2 linked regions of the Homo sapiens genome follow. The protein of the gene in region 2 interacts with the protein of the main gene of each other region in a biochemical or structural test. Each region holds a gene or a part of one and is shown on either strand. Other genes may lie near its edges.

Region 1 (3,500 bases), about 75 Mb from region 2:
TTGCCTTTAGAGTAAAAACTGTTTCAATTGAAGGGACTTTAGAGATCATGTAATTCAGTGTCATTTTATTTATTTACTTATTTATTTATTTATTTTTGGAGTTAGGGTCTTGCTTTTGTGACCCAGGCTGGAGTGCAGTGGTATGATCATAGCTCACTGCAGCCTTGAACTTCTGGGATCAAGGGATCCTCTTACCTAAACCTCCCAAGAAGCTAGGACTACAGGCATGTGCCACCATGCCTGGTTAATTTTTTAAAAATTTTGTAGGGATGGGGTCTCACTATGCTGCCCAGACTGGTCTTGAACCCCTGGGCTCAAGTGATCCTCCTGCCTTGGCCTCCCAAAGTGTTGGGATTAGAGGCGTGAGCCACCACACTCAGCCACAATCATTTTATAGATGAGAAAACCTGGGTAGGATGTGGTTAAATACTGATGTATGAAAACGTTACCTCATACAGTATTTGGCATGTAGTAAGAATTCAATAAAAATCAGTTTCCTTTTTTGGCCCACCATCCATTTAGGAACCAAGATGTCCTAAAACTTTCCTAACTGTTGTTCTGTATCTTTACGTTGAATAAAAAGCCCAATAAGCAGGTATTTATTTTATAAAGTGAATATTTATGAACAGTTTATTCTGTGCAATGCGTATATAATAAATTAGTACTATTTTTGCATTGTGTATATTAAAATTATCTTAAAAGACTGCATATCAAAATATGAGTGGATTCACATATTTTCTTAATAATTAAGCAATAAATTACTAAACGTCTGAATTTTCCAAAATACCCTTTTCACAAAGGAAAGAGATGAGGATAAATAGTATCTCCTTTCCCACACTGTTATACCTCCTTACCTGTCCGTGTATGTGGCTCACATTGATGCTGGAATAAGGAAACATGAGGCACTGCTTTGAGAGCCAACACCACCTAAGGAGTCAGGGTCTAGACTGCGGTCTGCCACTTACTAAGGGATGACCTTGGCAAGTTTTACTAACCTGTAATTTCTACATCTGCAATGTGGCCATAAAGAAGTCCAATCTTATAGGATTGCTCTAGGGATCCAAAGATATGCATATATAAATAATCTGTAAAATCTTCTGTCTATACAATATTACACGGTATAGCAAAATAAATAAATAAATAAATAAATAAACAACTAGAGAATGCAGGAAATCTGCATCCTGGTTCCAGGTCATCACTGTCTTGCCATGACACCTTGGAGAAGTCACCTTTTTGTAAAAATCTGCAAGATGCAAGGATTAAATTAGATCAGTGTCTCAAAGAATCAATTTGGAGAAACAAATGTGGGGCAAAGCAGCCCAACTTTTATCCACTTTCTTAGGCTTTCAAATCTTATATCATCCTTTGGGAGGCTGAGGTGGGAGGATCACTTGAGCCCAGAAGCTCAAGGCTGCAGTGTGCTAGGATAGCACCACTGCACTCTGGTCTGGGTGACAGAGCAAGATACTCTTCCATGAAGAAAAAAAATTCATATATTGTATCACCTAAAAAAGGGGTTCTGCTGAAATGAAATAATAAAGTTTCAACAATTTCTTTGAAGACTTTTTTTTTAATTACCTTGCATCCTTCACAAGCATGAACTCCATAGTGAAATCCAGAAGCTTTATCTCCACAGACACGACATTCAATTGCCATGAGGGAGTTGGAAGGCTCTTCATGAGGCTTATTGTAGAGCTGAGTCTTCTCAGAATAATAAGGTGGAGATGCAGGCTCCACTTTGATTGCACCTGTGTATGGAGACATGTGAGAGGATAATTATCCCATGAAAACAGTCCTAAAAAGGCAACAGGGCAAGCCACCATAGTACACCTTCATGCTGTATTTGTATTGTTTCAGTGTAAAAGCACAGTGGAACATGAAAAAACACTGGAGTTAAGGCAAGAAAAAGAAAGGTTTGTAATCACAGGCAAGTTATAACATCTCTAAGCCTCACCTGTAAATATAAAATGGGAATGAGAATTAAGTCTGTGGTTCTATGACCCCCAGTAGCCTGCAATACTACAGCTGTAACAGACAACATAGAGGATTTGAGACAAGGAAGCTTATTTTGCTAGGAAATGTTCTGTCTTTGGTATTCATCACAATATTAAATTATACATTTTATTTAAATATTCCATTTTATAAGTACTTTGAAACAACTTGCAAAAGAACCACAGAAGGAACACCACTGTGAAAAGGTCATGGTATGCCTAGCTTGAGGTGCATGAAAAATATGAGCCCAGGTTACCATTAGTGTTCAGTCAAAGGAGGTGGTTTGTGAAATAATCTTTGACAGAGCGTGGCGGAACTTATGGAAGTAAGCCCTACCTTTTACTAGTTGGGCTCAGGGCTACTAAATTTCCATATTAGGCTCTAACTGAAAACCGCATAGATAAATATAACTAAGCATATTATTTATCTTTAAAAGCCACTAGAAATACAGGAAGTTCTTACTTGTCAAGTAATGATTGCCAATTACATAGTGGTGGCTTTGGAAAACCAGCATGTCAGCCCACACATGATAAAAATCAAGGAAATAGCATCACAGAAATACATTTTATCTCAAAAAGTGCAGTTCTAGTTTTTCTTGAGTCTGATGTTTTGATGTTGATTTAGTTAATGGCATGAAAATTTATCAATAGGCTACAATGTTAAAACAAATTTGTGCTTAAAAGTAGGTTTCAGTATAAACTCCTGAAAGGACATACTAGAAAAAATGTACTGTAGTAGCAGTAATATAGTGAAGATAAGTTATATAATACAAAGTGACTTGGAATTGTTACTTATTAACTTATAAGGGGCCAAAATAATTCAAAGTTTGGATGATGGACTCTTAGCCTGAGATACAACTGACAGTGTAATCAAGGTAGAAAATGTCCCTAAGAAGGAAGTAAGCAAGAAAGGAAAGAAGAGAGGAAGGAAGGAGGGGGCGGGGAAGGCAAGATTGACCTCGTGCCAGCTCCCTTCCTGGCATTTCATAGATACCTAATATTTCATGGATAAATGGGTGAATAAATGAATGGTGAATGCCTTCTCTATTAGATTTCTAGTCTCTGGAGCATTATTTATTACAGGGTTACTGAGAGATGAGTCCAATTCTAGTCCTAGTAGTCTGAAAAGTGAAAATAAACATCATACTTTGGTACTCTTGAAGTTTCAGGTCATACTTGTAATCTGCAACCACTGGATCTGTTCTTGTGAATGGAATGTCTTCGTAATGTGGAGTAGAAATGCTGGAGAAGTCAACAGTAGTGAAGGGCTTGATATCAAAGGAGTGGGAGTGGTCTTCCATTACGGAGAGATCCACGGAGCTGATCCCAAAGTTGGTGGGCCAGAATGGCATCTCTGTGTCAACCATGGTCATTTCTGAAAGGAAAAATAGACTAGCTGTGAAGTTAAGTCCTAGAGAACACAGCAATCTCACAGAGTTTCAGAAAGAGAAATGAAAAGAGTCTTTGGCAAAGTAATCTCATCTGGGCGCTCACAACAACAGAAAAGAA
Region 2 (3,500 bases):
ACAGCATCTGTAATTCTAGGTTTTCTATTATTTGTACTGTAAGGTGTTGATTTGAATTCTCTAAGTTCTCAGGAGTGAAAGGACAGAAGGAATTTAGCTGCAAGAGTACGTGAAGAGAAGGGCAAAAGAGAAATCATTTTGAGCTGACACAAATTTGCTACTACTCAACCCCAGTAGAGTTGTAGTACCCACCACAACGTAGATATGAAGAGATTGGAACTCAGAGGTGTTAATCACTTGAACAATGTTAGTAATTAGTTAATGGCATGGATAATTCATTACTCCCAATTAGTCATTCTCTTTATTTTGCCTGCACCTGGACTATTACGTACAGTGGATTCATCTGATCATTAAAATTCTACCTACCAACCTGACAAAATATTAGTTATAGCTCTTCTTTTCCTGTGAGTTATTAATTTAATGAAATGCTCAAACTAAATGTAAGCATCAGAGTATGAGTAATGAAATAACCATATGAAAATAAAGTAATTTCACATATTTTAGAAATATAGTTCTTCCTGTAGCTTCACTTTTATATAGAGTATGTGACACCGTGTCGTTGTTGTTGTTAAGACACTTCTGTGGATTGTGTGCAAGGGGCTGATTTGATTAATGACTTAAGACTTCTCAGAAAATTCAGATGACATAATAAGGTTTCTATTGTGTACTTTATACATTTGTCTCTTATTTACCTTTTCTCTCTTATTTCTGAATTGCTGTATTTTGTAACTCAATTTATGCAGCTTTACTGGGGATAAAGTCAGGAGAGTTCAGATTCTCTAAGATCTAATCTCTCATGAAGCAAATGCTAATACTGAATTATGTCCCAATATAGACATTCTGACATTTAAAGCATATCACATTTTAACAAAATTTTTGAGAGGGATTTAACAATCCCTCTCAAAAATATTCAAATATCTTTGTGCTTGTGATGGTGAGTTTTTCTTTCAGTCACAGAATATATTTAATCTTAAGACCACAGTGATAGCTCCAGACCTTGGTGTAAGTCTTCTGCTCTTGATGTCACTAAGACAGGGTTTTGAATCATTTTGAAAGGCTCTTCCAGGGGTCTTTACATTTTAATTGAAATGAGGAAGAGGTTCGTGGAAGAGGGTTTGCTGAGTTCATGCTGGAGGAAACTTGTATCAGAAAGACATGAGCTGCCAACACTCTCAATGTGAACATTGGCATATTGGCTCCAGTCCTGGAAGCAGTAAGGGTGTTAGAATTCTGAGGCCAGCTGCAAACTCCCGAGGCCAGTGGTGGCCCTCTCTGATTAGGCAGGGTGGGAGTTGGTAGCAAAAATTATCTGAAGGTATTTGGGCCAGAGATTATTGGCCCCTGCTCTGTGACTGGTTTTAATCTTGGTGCCAACCTCAATCAACTGGCAGGGACTGCCTCTGTGCTGGGTTAAGAGAGAAACTAACAATGTACCTTGGTTCCTGGGAGTTCCTCTAAATGAACTGTAAGGTCTTTCCTCCAGGAAACAGTGGCATGTGTTTGTCATTTCCTGTCTCATAATCAAAATGCTGTAAAGGCCACAGAAAGCAATCCACCCGCACCTCCAGTAGCTAAACGCATTTATTTTACTATTTTATAATGACAGTAGTTCATCATTGAGGAGGGCTATTCTCATTAACCATGAATACTAATTAAGCATGTTGATCATAAATAATCAATTTTCAGAGAGGAAGAAAAAATATGGCTTTAATTCTTAATTTTTAAAAAAAGACGTCAGGATTTACAGGTCATTGTTAAGAACACCAGTCTTCATTTAACCATAAATGTTAGGATACTGGTTTATTCAGAATGTTGCTTGATAGAATGTAGGAGAAGCTCATATTTTTCTGGATTATTATTTTAAAGTTTTAATGTTCTATTTAGTCTTACATGGACAAATTTTGAGATATCAAAGGTTAAACAATTTAATTAAAATTAAACTATTTGCTCCATTTTACTTGAAAATTATAGGAATAAATCAATATTTGTCTGCGGTTTTTTTTTTTTACTGCTTATCTGTATCATAACAAAACACAAGTCAATTAGAAAAGATTTCCCTAATAAGTGATTCCTTTATCCACAGTTTTTCCCTCAGTATCACACACATACACACACACCATGCACACGCACACACACATTTACTCACACAGTTTGTCATCAATAAGAATTCTTTTCCTGCTGTAGTAATAAAGATAAAATATCAAAGAATTTCTTTTCTTTTCTTTTATTATTATTATACTTTAAGTTTTAGGGTACATGTGTACAATGTGCAGGTTAGTTACATATGTATACATGCGCCATGCTGGTGCGCTGCACCCATTAACTTGTCATTTAGCGTTAGGTATATCTCCTAAAGCTATCTTAAAAATAAACCAACAAATGAAAATCCTGCGCATAATAAAACTGTGTACTTTTTAAAAACAATTAAAATCTTATGTGGCCATGCCATGAAATTAAACAAGAATTTTTGATGAATAGATCTCATAAGCCAGATCTACGCATTCCTCAAAAACTGTGCTTCAATGCCTTTATAGAAGGATCAATAAGCAGGTAGCCATAATTGATACAGTCATACTTCACTTACCTATAGGAGAAAAGTATGTAACTTCAATGATTTCAATCTCACTTAAGACTCACTCAGAAGCAATTCAGAAAGGGCTGCTAAAGCCTGAAACAGCTATCACTAAAGCCCCTACCAATCACTCTTAGCTTCAATCAATGTCTTATTTATGTTTATGGACCAAAGGTCCAGAAGAAATATAATGATGAGGGGGGGTGTTCTGTAAACCTGTGCTGTCTGATATGGGAGTCGCTAGCCACATGTGGTTATAGAGCACTTGAAATGTAGCAAGTGCAACTGAGAAACTGAATTTGAAATCTTGTTTTATTTTACCTAGTTTACATTTAAATTTAAATAGCCACACGTGTCTAGTAGCTACTATATTTTTAGTGAAGGTAAGCCTACCAATAGCATCATGTTACAACTAACAGTTTGACGATAGTGAATTTCAATAAAAACCATACAAAGCAAACTCAAGAAGCACAGCAGTTCAGAGATACGTAAGTAGGGAAATTAGGTATAACCCCTATGGTCTCTGTGGGTGTCACAGAGCAGGAAACAAGAAGTGGTGATTTTTAACAGTAATTTTCAAAGTTAAGAAATCAAATTTCATGTCACACTCTGATCACAATTCTTTCAGGCCCAGAAAATCCATCTAAGTGTCCCCAAATTCAATAACATGTAAAAGACAACTTTTCTTACCTGCCATCACTCCATAGGTTGATGGCTGGTTTCCATAATGACAGGAAGGAACAGAATAATGAAGTCCTGTTGCTGTGTTTCCCAACGTTGTCACCGAGAAATGTGTGCACAAACATTTAGGAGTTTGGATCAAAGACAAAATAGATGGGACTGGTAAGAAAATGTATAAGGATTCAAGACACATTCGTTTTATTTCAAAAATACACATTTATGTGGTTCTTAAAGTTACATGCCAATA

What was found.
Region 1: the proteins of POU1F1 (region 2) and PPARG form a complex in vitro, tested with the Homo sapiens proteins (one study listed by BioGRID).

The regions. Positions count from the first base shown.
Region 1 is NC_000003.12:12,379,570-12,383,069, reverse strand, and holds part of PPARG (peroxisome proliferator-activated receptor gamma), read right to left. Parts: intron 3,367-3,500; coding exon of another isoform or gene 3,359-3,366; coding exon 3,139-3,358; intron 1,749-3,138; coding exon 1,579-1,748; intron 1-1,578. UniProt on the Homo sapiens protein: Nuclear receptor that binds peroxisome proliferators such as hypolipidemic drugs and fatty acids.
Region 2 is NC_000003.12:87,270,085-87,273,584, forward strand, and holds part of POU1F1 (pituitary-specific positive transcription factor 1), read right to left. Parts: intron 3,413-3,500; coding exon of another isoform or gene 3,335-3,412; coding exon 3,263-3,334; intron 1-3,262. UniProt on the Homo sapiens protein: Transcription factor involved in the specification of the lactotrope, somatotrope, and thyrotrope phenotypes in the developing anterior pituitary. Specifically binds to the consensus sequence 5'-TAAAT-3'. Activates growth hormone and prolactin genes.